2 separate regions of the Homo sapiens genome follow, and region 1 is linked to region 2. The links come from fine-mapping of genetic effects on gene expression. Tissue or cell type: whole blood. Region 2 holds a variant in brackets; the other region holds the start of a gene. All regions are shown on one strand. Distances are from middle to middle.

Region 1 (8,108 bases), 40 kb after region 2:
GGAGAAGCATGGGACAGACTTTGCCAGACACTTCCAGAAAGAACCAACTCTGCTGATACCTTGATTTCAGGCTTCTGGCCTCCAGAACAGTGAAAGAATCAATTTCTGTTGCCTGCTGCCAGCAGTTTGTAATACTTTGTTATAACAGCACTAAGAAATTAATACCCCAGAGTGTCTTAGTCAGGGTCCAAGAAGACAGAAACCACTCCAAATATTTGCAAACAAAAGGAGTTTATTCCAGGGAACTGATTACATGACAGGAGCCAAAGAGGGTAAAATGAATCAACCGAGAGATTAGCAATAGCAGGAAGCCACTACCACACCTAGCTGGAGGCATGGAGGGAGCAAGCAGTGTTGCCAGGACCCTGATCACCTGGCAGAATATGAAACCATATCTAGCCTGCCAGGTGAGAGCTGGAGCCAGGAGGAGAGCAGAGGAGTCATCCTGAAACAGTCCGCAAGCTAAGAAGAAAGAGTGGGAAGGAAAAAGACCCTAATTCTTCAGCACCACCCATTGGCTTGGTCCAAGAAGACAGAGCTGTCAGACAGAGAAATCTGTGTGATGTAGACTGTGTCACAGAGAAGAGCAGCAGGAAGATGAGGGCTGGATCTGAAAGCTACCTGGGCAAGGATCCAAACCAACAACTCCACTCCAACCCCATGAGACTCAAAGGAGGAGAGTTTAAGCTTTTGCTGTTTTTTAAATAAATTACTAGGATCCATAATAATACCAGTAAAAGGTGAGATCTGAAGGATGAGAGACACTATGAAGAAACAGTGTGAGACAGTAATAATGCACTGATGATCATGGCAGTACAAAAAATGGGAAGTCCTTCATGAGTCAGGTTTCTTTAAACCCACATGCAACTCCCACTTAGATGGACACAACAGTATGTGAAGACTCATACTGTGTTCTTTTGTTCCAAGAACCACCACGGGAACACACCAGGAAAACCAAAGGAATTCACACACCCTTTGAAAGAAGCAGGACACTGCTGCAAATTTTGCAAAACAGGTGAAAAACTGTAAGTTCCCAAAGTGTGAGAGGGAAAAAACCTGCCTCTGAACACACATCCCCACTGGGGAATCTGAAAATCCAGATCAAGGGAGAATTTAACCTTACCTTGAACTGAAACAAATGTAGGCAGTCACACAAAATATAAAAGTAGAAGTATCAGTATCAGAAGACTGCAAGGCACTTCCAATCTTCAGCTTGAGCCCAGGGAAGCCATTCCTGACTATATCTCACAGGATCTCTCAGGGAAGGCAGCCAGTGGAATTGGGGAGGGGTCACCAGGTGAAGGAAGCTTCCAACTGAAATTGGTAGTGGTTTCAATTGGACACAAACTTTCTTTAGTGGAGTCTAGGGGACGAGTGGGAGCTTTGGCAATATGAGCACATGAACTCAGAAGCAAAGAAGCCACTCCCGTTGGAGTGGGCAGATGGGGAGGGGTGATATCTGAAATCCATGCTTGCTTTCTCAGTGGGAAAGTTCACAGCCTTGGGCAAGATCTGAGTGGGGCACTTTGGGAGTGAGACTGGCCTTGCCAACTGTGTGGGAGCTGGGTGAGACCTCTCGCTACCAGCTTTCCGCCACTTCCCTGGTGAATTATATGACACAACAGAGGTAGCCAAGATCCCCTCTGGAAAATAACCCCATTGGCCTAAGAACCACCCCCACATCCCGCACAGTGGCCACAGCAAACCCCACCCAAGGAGACTCTGAGCCCAGACCCACCTAACCCTGCCCCAACATGATGGTATTTCTTTACTCACCCTGGTAACCAAACACAAAAGATAGAAACTCTTGGGAGCTTTCAGGCCCCACCCATCATCTGAGAAACCAAAATACTCACCCTGGCCAACTTAGGGCAAACCTAGATCCCTCTACTACCAATGCAGCTGGTGCTCTCTTGAAAGCACCACTTCTTGGCTGGAGGCCAAACAACACAGGCCATTACAGCAACTCATGACAGAATAACCCTGAACCCAGGAAGGAGAAGATAACACCTAATTCCAATGCCTGCAACATCCTGGCTAAACAGAGGTCCTGAGTGTGTCCACATGAAAACTTCACTGCTAGCATAACCAGCATTCAAGAAACCCAGCACACTACACATATCTACAACCAAGGACTCTCACAGAGTCTACTTCACTCCCCTTCCACCTCCACCAGAGCAGGTAATGGTATCCATGGCTGGGAGACCTGAAGAGAGATCACATCACAGGACTCTTTGCAGACATTCCCCAGCACCAGCTGGAACCTGGTAGCGCCACTGGGAGGCTAGACCCAGAAAAGCAGTAACAGCCAATGCAGTCCAGTGGTCAGAAAGTCCCATCCCTAGGGGAAGGGGGAGAGCACCACATCAAAGGATCACCCCATGGGATAATAGAATCTGAACAGCAGGACTTGAGTTCCAGACCTTTCCACTGAAATAGTCTACCCAAATGATAAGGAACTAGAAAGGTAATTCTGGTAATATGATAAAACAGAGTTCTATATCACCTCCAAAAGATCACACTAGCTCCCCAGCAATGGATCCAAACCAAGAAGAAATCTCTGAATTGCCAGATAAACAATCCAGAAGATCATTAAGCTACTCAAGGAGATACCAGAGAAAGGTGAAAAAACAACTTTAAAAATTAAAAAATATATATATACATAAATATAGGATATGGGTGAAAAATTCCCCAGAGAAATAGATATCATAAAGAAAAAATAATCACAACTTCTGGAAATGAAAGCCATGCTTAGAGAAATACAAAATCCACTGGAAAGTTTCAACACTAGACTAGAACAAGCGGAAGAAAAAACTTCAGAGCGCAAAGACAATGCTTTCAAATTAACCCAATCAAACAAAGACTAAGAAAAAATAATTTTTAAAAAATGAACAAAGCCTCCAAGAAATGTGGGATTATGTTAAACAGTCAAACCTAAGAATAATTGGTGTTCCTGAGGAAGAAGAGAAATCTAAAAGCTTGAAAACCTTATTTGAGGAAATAATTGAAGAAAACTCCCCTGTCCTTGCTAGATACCTAGACATCCAAATACAAGAAGCTCAAAGAACACCTGGAAAATTCATCACAAAAAAGTCTATCACCTAAAGTCCTATCCCAGTTCTGTTAAAGTAATAGCAGGAATAGCACCTTATAAATACCTAGAAAAATAGTAGAAGGAAACATGCTTAAGCATTAATAATGATCTCCGGTGGTAGAATTTTTGGTAAGTTTAATTTTATCATTTACATGTTCCTACTTAACTATACATATATATTTATATATATTCATATACATAAATATACAAACATATGTATATATACACATTTTTGTTTATGGACAGCCTATGACTGTGAGCCAAGGGACATCAGAGACATGGCTCTCTGGAAACTGAGAGAATACTTAGTGGACAGTTTTTTGTTTGTTTGTTTGTTTGTTTTTGAGATGGAGTCTCGCTCTGTCACCCAGGCTGGAGTGCAGTGGCGCGATCTCAGCTCACTGCAAGCTCCACCTGGGTTGACGCCATTCTCCTGCCTCCGCCTCCCAAGTAGCTGGAACTACAGGAGCCCGCCACCACGCCCGGCTAATTTTTTGTATTTTTAGTAGAGATGGGGTTTCACCATGTTAACCAGGATGGTCTCGATCTCCTGACCTCGTGATCCACCCGTCTTGGCCTCCCAAAGTGCTAGGATTACAGGCATGAGCCACCGCGCCCGGCCTTAGTGAACAATTATTATCAGGATGATCAGCATCCATTTTTCCATCACCTGGCAACAACAACTAGCATTTCTCAAGGGAAATCCCCTCCTCATTCATAAGCACCATAGATGGAGTGGAACAGTCCCCACCTCAGCTTAAGGAGGGCTAAATAACCAAAGCATAAAGCAATCAGTCCACTACACTTCAGTGGACCCAATGATGACTCATTTTGGTTCAATAAATATCAAGTCCAGAACTTTTGTGCAGAACTGTGGAATAAAAAAAGTTATCTTTGTCACAGAATATTTATATTTAAAGAGGGGATTCTAAATATCCCAAAAATATGAATCTGAGATAGTGGTAAGATAGGAATGGGTTGCCATTTGCAGTATTTGTTGGGTGTGTGCAACTCTGCATACTGCTAAGGCAAGTCCAGCCTCCGTCTCACACCAACAGGCAGATTTCCCCACCACGGCCCTTACCATCTTGTGCTCTAACCCCAGATTTTCAGTCTACTCTTGCTAACCATCAATTCTTCAAGGGCAAGAGCCATGTCTCTCATATCCCTGGATCTGGCTTGCTAAATAATTATTCATGATTTTATCTGAGTAGAAAAAGAGCCAAGAACTGAGAAAAGGAGACATTCTTGGTTCTCAGTCACTGAGGAGCTTCTGCAGTACCAGCCTTTCTGCTAGCTGCAGCCACAGCTTCAACAGCTCCACCTCCTTGTTCTTTATTCTTGCTTTCACCTTGTTACTCAGCAGCAGGGGTGTAAATGTGACAGTGCCATGTCAACTTAAACCAAACCAGATAATTTTAATAAACCACCTTCTATAATGACACCCATCAAAACCAGAAGGGGACAAGTCTAGGAGGTCTCTGAGTTTACTGTACCCATCCCTCCTTCATCTCCCTCCAGCATTTGTTTCTGGAAGGAGTCAACACCAACAGCTCTGACCTGGGCAGCCTTCCTGAGAAAATGCAGCCATTCCTCCTCCTGTTGGCCTTTCTTCTGACCCCTGGGGCTGGGACAGGTAAGTGACTATCCCTATTCCAGAGGCCTGAACCCATCTTATAAGATACCCTGTACCCATGAGCACTGGTCAGGAATTTTCCTCAATCTGAGCCCACCTCCCATTCCACACCCAGACTTATAAATCTGAGGCTAGATAGACACTCAGCAAAGATCGAAAAATGAAGGGTGTTCCCTAAAAGGTTTAATGGGTGTTAGCCTCTCCCTAGACCTCTCCTTTATGACCTGGAGTGTGGATTGTTCTTAGAAAGGCATTTGGTAGGGAATGTGAAGCTAAAAAAGATAAGTAATTATTACTCTACACTCCAACCCAGGAAAGAGGAGCTCAGACACCAAGTTGCAGTCATAGGAGTTGTTACTGGACTCAGCTTAAGAACCACTTATTCAGTGCCCCCACCCAGTCACCCCTGCCAGGAGGGAAGCCCATGGTGCAACTGATCTCAGAGATGGCAAGATGACTGTGTCCATAGCTCTCCCATTACCTTGGCTCCACCTGGGCTTTGCGATTCATTTTTAGTTGATTTCTCCACTTCCTTCTGCCTTTGCAGGCCCTCAGCTACTCCACTGACCTGGTGATAACCCCCTCTAACATCCCTGAGGTCCTGAATCCCACCAGCACTACCCCCACTAAACCTCAGCCAAAGGCTAATTGGAGGCTATTCATTTATGCACCAAACAACACTTACTGAGAACCTAGAATGTGTTCAGCCCTGGCACATGAGAATTTTAGAAAATCCAACTCCAGAAGCTCATGGGTAGATCATTAGAAAATGGCACCAATCAGGAGGACAGCAGAGGCTCAGAGGAATCAGAGAGACTCACTAAAAAGGAGGAGCCTGGGAAGTCCTGTCCAGGATCCTCTGGGGCTCTACCACTGTGAAAATAGATCTTTCTTCCTCCATGTGTGTTTCTGCAGTAGGATGCAGAAGTCAAGCACTGTCCATTCTTTCTGAGAGAAGGTTCTGAGACTTAAAGTTCAGAAAAGCTTGCTCTGCCTGCAAGGAGTACTGCCTGCAGAGCTCAGGAGGACCCCTCCCTCACTGTCTGCAGCACACAAAACACTTCACCCTCAATCACTGTCGTCCTAAGCCTTCTCTCCTGACTGCAGCCATCCCCAGCTACTTTATCTTCCAGTCTTTCCTTTCAGAGGAGATCATCGGGGGCCATGAGGCCAAGCCCCACTCCCGCCCCTACATGGCCTTTGTTCAGTTTCTGCAAGAGAAGAGTCGGAAGAGGTGTGGCGGCATCCTAGTGAGAAAGGACTTTGTGCTGACAGCTGCTCACTGCCAGGGAAGGTAAGGAGCAGCACCAGCTCACCTCCTGAGTTCCCCCTACAGGGACCCTTGTTTTCTCCTGGGGACTGCAGCCCAGGGGAGCTTCCAGAGTTCCTGGTAACACAAGCCCATGAAAGCTCATCGGAGCAGCCACCTGGGAATAGGACTAAGATGATGAAAGGCTGAGAAATAGGACAGGGTCAGAGGGTCAGAGGGTCAGAGGTCAGAGCAAGTGGCATGGTTTCACACACTGGCCCAATAAGGCAGTAGTAAAGGTTGAATCCATGCATTAAGGATCAAAATGCAAACTCGAGCAATTTCATGATATTTCCTGAAGGCAAGAGAGAGCCCCCAGAAGCCCTACTCTTCATGTCTTTGTGAAGTAGAGGGCACAGTCACTCAGCCCTGGAGCCCTCCTGTCCCTTCAACTTCCCCTCAGCTGCAGCCCTACCCTGCCACAGCTGTCATCTGCTCTTCACTGCTCCTGGGCTCTATCCCCTGTGACTCCACCCCCATCCTCACTCTGCTCTCTGTGCAGCTCCATAAATGTCACCTTGGGGGCCCACAATATCAAGGAACAGGAGCGGACCCAGCAGTTTATCCCTGTGAAAAGACCCATCCCCCATCCAGCCTATAATCCTAAGAACTTCTCCAACGACATCATGCTACTGCAGGTGAGGCACACTCCTGCCACTCTTGCTCTTCTTGGTCCAGTTGGTTCCACTCCCACTGGGATGCCGGCCCTTTCCTCCTTTCCATCCTGACCTCTTGGTCAGTTCCTGTGCCTTAGAGGAGAGGGAAGATTGTGCAGCCCCATCACTGTGTCGGGGCCCAGAAGGCCATTGCCTGACCTGGACTTTCTTGCTTCTTCCCCACCAGCTGGAGAGAAAGGCCAAGTGGACCACAGCTGTGCGGCCTCTCAGGCTACCTAGCAGCAAGGCCCAGGTGAAGCCAGGGCAGCTGTGCAGTGTGGCTGGCTGGGGTTATGTCTCAATGAGCACTTTAGCAACCACACTGCAGGAAGTGTTGCTGACAGTGCAGAAGGACTGCCAGTGTGAACGTCTCTTCCATGGCAATTACAGCAGAGCCACTGAGATTTGTGTGGGGGATCCAAAGAAGACACAGACCGGTTTCAAGGTTGGGTTTCCAGCCTCTACCCAGAAAGACCACAGGGAGAGAGGAACTTGAGGGAGTTCTGGGGTATGACAGTGGCCAGATCTTTATGCTCTCAGCCCAGAGCTTGGGCAGCCTGTGTCCCCCTGGAATCTAGTCTTTAGTCCACTCCTTGGGTGGACTGGGGTGGCTGGAGGGGAAGGATCTGTCATCCGACAGTCACTTATCACCAAAGTGTCCGTGAGAATTGCAGAGAAAGGCTTGGTCTGGGGAGAGCCAGAAAGCACAGCCAGGGCCATGCTGGAGACCCAGGACTGAGGGAGGTGAGTGACAAGGCCTGCCTGGCACTGATGTCACACAAAATCCATAACAGAGACCACCCATCCCAGGGAACACTAGCTCAGTCTTTCCTCTCTCTGTTCACAGGGGGACTCCGGGGGGCCCCTCGTGTGTAAGGACGTAGCCCAAGGTATTCTCTCCTATGGAAACAAAAAAGGGACACCTCCAGGAGTCTACATCAAGGTCTCACACTTCCTGCCCTGGATAAAGAGAACAATGAAGCGCCTCTAACAGCAGGCATGAGACTAACCTTCCTCTGGGCCTGACCATCTCTGGGACAGAGGCAAGAATCCCCAAGGGGTGGGCAGTCGGGGTTGCAGGACTGTAATAAATGGATCTCTGGTGTAAATATGACTGAAGTCTTATTTATTCACTGAACCATCTTCAATATGCAACAACACTGCTCCAGGCAGCCGTCTGCTGTCAGTTCTGGCTTTTGCTTCTTCCTTTCTCCCCCAGCCCTCCCTCCTCCCTAAACCCCATGCTGTACAGTTTTTTCACTAATTTCTCAATCACATGTCTTTGATACTGAACCCTCTGTTAGAGCTGGTTTGAACTCCATTATAAACAAACAATCTTCACCCCTCTCCCTTCACAAAAAAAAATAAACCTCTCTGGACGTTAGGAATTTCTTATCGTCTCTAAACCAACTA
Region 2 (8,108 bases):
GAGAGGTTGGTTAATCCTACAGAAATACAGTAAAATATTAGGAATAATTTCTACTGTATGAGCACAATACAGTGACTGTAGTTATCAATAATTTATTTTATATATCAAAATAACTAGAAAGGAAGATTTGGAATGTTGTCAACACAAAGAAGTGATAAATGTTTGAGGTGATTATAGTGATCAATTACCCTGATTTGATCATTATATATTGTATGCATGGATCAAAATATTACATGTATACAATTATTATGTATCAATAAACAAACCAGACACATAGGCCAGTGGAACAGAATAGAGAACCTCAAATTAAGTATAAGAATTTAGAGCCAACTGATTTTCAGCAAAGGCACCAAGAACATACACTGAGAAAAGGACATCCCCTTCAATAAATGATGCCGGGAAATCTGGGTATCCATATGCAGAAGAACGAAACTAGACCCCTATCTCTCAAAAATCAAAGGAAAGTGGATTAAAGACTTAAATGAAAGACCAAAAACTGTAAAACTACTAGAACAATACATAGGGAAATCTCTTCAGGGCATTGGTCTAGTCAAAGATTTTATGAGTAGGACTTCAAAAGCACAAGCAATAAAAAACTAGACAATGGGACTATATCAAACTACAAAGCTTTTACACAACAAAGAAAACAATCAAGAGAGAAAAGGCAACCTATAGAACGGAAGAAAATATTTGCAAACTATGCATCCAATAAGGAACAAATGTCCAGTATATACAAGGAACTCAACAGCAAAAAAAAAAAAAAACTAATAATTTGATGTTTTAAATGTGCAAGGTATCTGAATAGACATTTTTCACTATAAAAGACATACAAGTGGCCAATACATGTATTTAAAAATGCTCAGCATCACTAGCCATCAGGGAAATGCAAATCAAAACCACAATGAGATGTCATCTCACTTCACTTAGAATGGCTATTATCAAAAAGATAAAAAATAACAAATGCTGCAAGGATGAGGGAAAAGGAAACTTTTACACACTGTTAGTGGGAATGTAAGTTAGTACAACCATTATGGAAAACAGTATGGAGGTTTCTAAATAAAACTAAAACTAGAACTACTATAAGGTCCAGCAATCCCACTACTGGGTATGTATCCAATGGAAAGGAAATCAGTATATCAAAGGGATACCTGTACCCTCAAGTTTATCACAGCACTATTTTCTTTCTTGCTTGCTTGCTTGCTTGCTTGCTTGCTTGCTTGCTTGCTTGCTTTCTTGCTTTTCTTGCTTTCTTGCTTGCTTTCTTGCTTTCTCCTTCTTTCCTTCCTTTATTTTTAAATTTCAATAGCTTTAGGGGTACAAGTGGTTTTTGGTTACATGGATGAACTGTATAGTAATGAAGTCAGATTTTAGTGTATCAGTCACTCAAGTAATGTACTTTGTACCCAATATATAGTTTTTTATCTATCACTCAACTGCCACCTTCCTCTCTTCTGAGTCTCCAATGTCCATTATACCACTCTTTATGCCTTTGTGTACCCATAGTTTGACTCCCACTTATAAGTGAAAATATATGGTATTTGGCTTTCCATTCCTAAGTTACTTCACTTGGAAAAATGGCCTCCAATTCCATCCAAGTTGCTGCAAAAGACATTATTTCATTCCTTTTATGGATGAGTGGTATTTCATAGTGTATATACACCACATTTTATTTATCCAGTCATGGTCCAATGGGCACTTAGGTTGGTTCTATGTTTCTGCAGTTGTGAATTGTGCTGCAATAAACATATGTGTGCACGTGTCTTTTTCATATAATGACTTATTTTCCTTTGGGTAGATACCCAGTAGTGGGATTGCTAAGTCAAATGGTAGAACTGTTTTTAGTTCTTTCAGGAATCTTCATACTGTTTTCCATAGAGTGTACTAATTTACCTTCCCACCAGCAGCGTATAAGCATTCCCCTTTCATCACATCCATGCCAACATCTGTTATATTTTGACGTTTTAATAATGGCAATTCTAGCTGGGGTAAGGTGGTATCAAGTTGTGGTTTTAATTTGCATTTCCTTCATGGTTAGTGATGTTGAGAATTTTTTCCTATGTTTGTTGGCCATTTATATATCTTCTTTAGAGAAATGTCTGTTCATGTCATTTGCCCACTTTTTGATAGGATTATTTGTTTTTTCTTGCTGATTTGTTTGAATTCCTTGTAGTTTCTGGATATTGGTCCTTTGTCAGATGCATAGTTTGCAAATATTTTCTCCCATTTTGTTCACCGTAATGATTATTTCTTTTGCTGTGTGGAGGCTTTTTAGTTTAATTAGATTAGATTTCTTTATGTTTGTTTTTGTTGCATTTGCTTTTGAGGTCTTAGTCATAAATTATTTGCTTAGGCCAATGTCCAGAAGAGTTTTTCCTGGGTTTTCTTCTAGAATTTTTATGATTTCAAGTCTTAGACTTAAGTCTGTAATCCACCTTGAGTTGACTTTTGTATATGGTCAGAGATAGGGATCCAGTTTCATTTTTCCACATGTGGTTAGCCAGTTTTCCCAGCACCATTTATTGAATAGGGTGTCCTTTCCCCAGTTCATGTTTTTGTATGCTTTCTTGAAGATAAGTTGATTGTAAGTATTTGGCTTTATTTCTGGATTCTCTATGCAGTTCCATTGCTCTATGTACCTACTTTTATAACAGTACTCTGCTGTTTTGGTTACTATATCTTTGTAGTATAACATGAAATCAGGTAATGTGATGCTTCCAGACTTGTTCTTTTTGCTTAGGATTGTTTTGGCTATTCAGGCTCTTTTTTTGGTTTCATATGAATTTTAATTTTTTTTCTAATTTCATGAAAAACAATGTTGGTATTTTGATAGGAATTGCATTGTATCTGTAGATTGCCTTGGGCAGTATGGTCATTTTAATGATATTGATTCTTCCAATTCATGAGCATGAGATGTATTTCCATTTGTTTGTGTCATCTATGATTTCCTTCAGCAGTGTTCTATACTTCTCCTCACGGAAATATTTCACATCCTTGGTTAAGTATATTCCTAGAGAGTTGGATTTTTTCCTTTTTTCTTGCAGGCATCTTAAAAGGGATCAAGTTCTTCGTTTGATTCAACTTAGTCATTGTTTGTGTGTATCAGTGCTACTCATTTGGGTACATTGATTTTGCAAGCTGAGACTTTTTGAATTCATTTACCAAATCTCGGAGTCTTTTGTAGGAATTTTTAGGGTTTTCTAGGCATGCAATAACACCACTGGCAAACACAGATAGTTTGACTTCCTCTTTTCCAATTTGGATGCCCTTTTATTTCTTTCTCTTGCCACATTGCTCTGGCTAGGACTTCCAGTACTATGTTGAATAGAAGTGGTGAAAGTGGGCATCCTTGTCTTCTTCCAGTTCTTAGGGGGAATGCTTTCAACTTTTTCCGGTTCAATATGAGATGGCTGTGGGTATGCCATATATGGCTTTTATTATTTTGAAGTATGTTCTTTCTATGCCTAGTTTGTTGAGAGTTTTATCATAAAGCAATGCTGAATTTTATCAAATGCTTTTTCTGTGTTGATTGAAATGATCGTGTAGTTTTTGTATTTGATTATGTTTATGTGATGAATCACATTTATTGACTTGAGTATGTTGAACCATCCCTACATCCCTGGGATGACATATCTTTTCGATTTTCTGTTGGATTTAGTTTGCTAATATTTTATTCAGAATTTTTACATGTATGTTAATCAGGGATATGGGTCTGTAGTTTTCTTTTTTTGTTGTTATGTCCTTTCCTGGCTTTGGTATCAGGATGATACTGGCTTCATAGAATAATTTGGGGTGATTCCCTCTTCTCAATCTTTTGGAATAGTTTCAGTAGGACTGGTACCAATTTTTCTTTGAATGGCTGGTAGAATTCAGCTGTGAATCCACTGGCTCTGAGTTTTTT[G/A]TTGTTGTTTTTGTTGTTCTTGGCAATTTTTTTATTACTGATTCTATTTCACCACTTGTTATTGGTCTGTTCAGAATTTCTGTTTCTTCCTGATTCAAGCTAGGAGGGTTGTATGTTTCCAGATATTTATCTATTTCCTCTAGACATGTACATAGAGGTGTTCATAGCAATCTCGAATGATCTTTTCTATTTCTGTGGTGTTGGTTGTAATGTCTCTATTTTCATTTCAAATTGAGCTTAGTTGAATCTTCACTCTTCTTTTCTTGGTTAGTCTAGCTAATGATCTATCGATTTTGTTTATCTTTTCAAAGAACCAACTTTTTGTTTCATTGACCTTTTGTATGGATTTTTGGCTTCAAATTTCATTTAGTTCTACTCTGATCTTTGCTATTGATTTTCTTCTTCTAGCTTTGGGTTTCATTTTTTCTTGTTTCTCTAGTTCCTTGAAGTGTAACATTTGGTTGTCAATTTGCTACTTTCAGACTTTTTGATAAAACCATTTAGTGCTATAACTTTCTTCTTAGCACTGCTTCTGCTGTATCCCACAGATTTTGATGAATTGTGTCACATTATCATTCATTTAAAATAATTTTTTAATTTCCATCTTGATTTCATTGTTAACCCCAAAATTATTTAGGAGAAGATTGTTTAATTTCCATGTATTTGTATAGTTTTGAGGGTTCCTTTTTGGAATTGATTTCTAGTTTTTATTCCAATGTGGTCTGAGAAGATACGTGATATGATTTTGATGGTTTTTAATTTATTGAGACATGTTTTGTGGCCTACTATATGGTCTATCTTAGAGGATGTTCCATGCGCTGATGAGAAGAATGTATATTCTGTAGCTCTTGGGGAAAATGTTCTGTAAATATCTGTTAGGTCCATTTGTTCTAGAGTGCAATTTAAGTCCAGTGTCTTTGGTTGACTTTCTGTCTTGATGTTCTGTCTAGTGCTATCAGTGGAGTGTTGAAGTCCCCCACTATTATTGTGTTGCTGTTATCTCTTTTCTTGGGTCTAGTAACAATTGTTTTATGAATGTGGGAGCTCCAGAATTAGGTGCATATATATTTAAGATGGTAATATCTTCTTGTTGGATTGATCCTTTTATCATTATATAATGACCTTCTTTGTCTTTTTTTTACTGTTGTTGTTTAAAAGTCTCTTTTATCTGATATAAGAATGGTTACTCCTGCTTAGTTTTGATTTTCATTTGCATGGAATATCTTTTTCCACCCCTTTGCCTTGAGTCTATAAGAATCCTTATGTGTTATATGTATCCCTGGAAAACAGAAGATATTTGGTTTGTAATTTTTTTATCCATTATGCCAATCCATATCTTTTAAGTAGAGCATTTAGACCATTTACTTTCAGTGTTAATATTGAGATGTGAAGTACTGTCCTCACCATCATATTGATTGTTACCTAGTTACTTTGTTTTCTTCATGGTGTTATTGTTTTTTGTTTTTTGTTTTTTACTTTAAGTTCTGGGATACACATCCAGAGCATGCAGATTTGTTACATAGGTATACATGTCCCATGGTGGTTTGCTGCACCCATCAATCTGTCATCTACATTAGGTATTTGTCCTAATGCTATCCCTCCCTTAGATCCCCACCCACTGACAGGCCCTGGTGTGTGATGCTCCCCTCCCTGTGTCCATGTGTTGCCATTGTTCAACTCCCACTTAAGTGTGAGAACATGTGGTATTTGGTTTTCTGTTCCTGTGTTAGTTCACTGAAAATGATGGTTTCCAGCTTCATCCATGTCCCTGCAAAGTACATGAACTCATCACTTTTTATGGCTGCATAGTATTCCATGGGGTATATGTGCCACATTTTCTTTATCCAGTCTATCTTTGATGGCATTTGGGTTGATTCCAAGTCTTTGCTATTGTGAATAGTGCTGCAATAAACATACATGTGCATGTCTTTACAGTAGAATGATTTATAATCCTTTGGGTGTATACCCAGTAATGGGATTGTTAGGTCAAATGGTATTTTTGGTTCTAGATCCTTGAGGAATCGCTGCACTGTCTTCCACAATGGTTGAACTACTTTACACTCCCACCAACAGTGTAAGAGCATTCCTATTTCTCCACATCCTCTCCAGCATCTGTTGTTTCCTGACTTTTTAATGATCACCATTCTAACTGGCATGAGATGTTATATCATTGTGGTTTTGATTTGCATTTTTCTAATGAACAGTGATGAGTTTTTTTTCATATGTTTGTTGGCCACTTAAATGTCTTCTTTTGAGAAGTGTCTGTTCATATCCTTTGCCCACTTTTTGATGGGGTTGTTTGTTTTTTTCTTGTAAATTTCTTTAAGTTCCTTGTAGATTCTGGATATTAGCCCTTTATCAGATGGATAGATAGCAAAAATTTTCTCCCATTCTGTAGGTTGCCTGTTCACTCTGATGATATTTAATAAATGATGTTGGGAAAACTGGCTAGCCATATGCAGAAAACTGAAACTGGACCACTTCCTTACACCTTATACAAAAATTAACTCAAGATGGATTAAAGACTTAAACGTAAGTCCTAAAACCATAATAACCCTAGAAGAAAACCTAGGCAATACCATTTAGGACATAGGCATGGGCAAAGACTTCATGACTAAACCACCACAAGCAATGGCAACAAAAGCCAAAATTGACAACTTGGATCTAATTAAACTAAAGAGCTTCTGCACAGCAAAAAAAACTGTCATCAGCGTGAACAGGTGTTATTGTTTTATAGACCCTGTGAGTTTTATACTTTCAAAAGGTTCTATTCTGGTGCATATCAACCTTTTGTTTCAAGATTTAGAATTCCTTTTAGCATTGCTTTTAGGGCTGGCCTTGTAGTAACAAATTCCCTTAGCATTTGCTTGTCTAAAAAATATTGTATTTCTCCTTTATTTATAAAACATAATTTTGCTGGATACAAAACTCTTGGCTGACAGTTATTCTGTTTAAGGAGGCTAAAGATAGGACCCCAGTCCCTTCTAGCTTGTAAGGTTTCTGCGGAGAAGTCTGATAGGCTTTCCTTTATAGGTTACCTGATGCCTTTTTCTCCCTGCTCTTAAAAATATTTCCTTCCCATTAAATTTAGATAGGCTGATGACTATATGCCTTTGTAATGTCCTTTTTGCAATAAATCTCCCAGAAGTTCTTTGGATTTCTTGTATTTGGATGACTAAATCTCTAGCAAGGCCATGGAAGTTTTCTTCAATTATTTCTTCGAATAAATTTCCCAAACTTTTTGCATTTTCTTCTCCCTCAGGGACACCAGCCATTCTTAGGTTTAGCCATTTTACATAATCCCATATTTATTGTAGACTTTGTTCATTTCTTTGAATTTTTTTATTTATTTTTGCCTGATTAGGTTAATTTTAAAGCCTTGTCTTTTAAATTTTTTCTTCTACTTGGTTTAGTCTATTGTTAAAACATTCCACTGTGTTTTGTAATTCCACTGCATTTTGTAATTCTCTAAATATATTTTTCATTTCTGGAAGTTCCAACTGGTTTTTCCTTAAAATATCTACCTCTTTAGAAAATTTTTCACTCATATTATAAATTGATATTCTCATTTCTTTATATTGTTTTTCACCTTTCTCTTGTATCTCCCTGAGTAACTTAATAATCAACCTTTTCAATTCTTTATCTAGTATTTCAAAGAATTTTTTTTTTGAAATGGAGTCTCACTCTGTCACCCAGGCTAGAGTGCAGTGGTGTGATCTCAGCTGACTGCAACCCCTGCCTCCCAGGTTCAAGCAATCCTCCTTACTCAGCCTCTCGAGTAGCTAGGACTACAGGTGCAAGCCACCATACCCGGCTAATTTTTCTTTCTTTTTTTTTTTTTTTTTTTTTGGATTTTTAGTAGAAATGGAGTCTCACCATGTTGGCCAGGCTGGTGGTATTTCAAAGATTTCATCTTGGTTTGGATCCATTTCTGGAGAGTGGCTGTGATCTTTTGAAGTTGTTGTAGAATGCTGTTCTGTCACATTGCCAGAATTATTTTTCTGTTTTCTTCTCTTTTGGGTAGTCTATTTCTTCTAATTATTTTTTAATTTATTTCTGGCTCACTTTTTATTTGACTGTGTTTTTTGTTGTTGTTTGTTTCTTTTTTTCCCCTTGAGGATGTGACTTTAATGTTTATAAGTTATCATAACCTAATTTGGCTCTGAGTGCTTTCAGGGGTGAAGATTCTGTATGAGCTCCTTGGTTATAG

Evidence for each region. PIP is the estimated chance that this variant, and not a neighbour inherited with it, causes the effect.
Region 1: it holds the start of GZMH, and the variant in region 2 is fine-mapped to the expression of GZMH in whole blood (INTERVAL, PIP above 0.99).

Annotation. Positions count from the first base shown.
Region 1 is chr14:24,606,181-24,614,288 of GRCh38, reverse strand. GZMH (granzyme H) reads left to right here and starts at 4,604. Exons shown (of 5, transcript NM_033423.5): 1 at 4,604-4,730; 2 at 5,877-6,024; 3 at 6,542-6,677; 4 at 6,883-7,140; 5 at 7,543-7,809. The coding sequence starts at 4,676. The coding sequence ends at 7,686. RefSeq lists an enhancer at 8,023-8,108.
Region 2 is chr14:24,646,529-24,654,636 of GRCh38, reverse strand. No RefSeq gene overlaps it. Among named protein-coding and RNA genes, the nearest start is that of GZMB, 16 kb to the right of the region's middle. The variant G/A (reference allele first, on the strand shown) is at 3,899.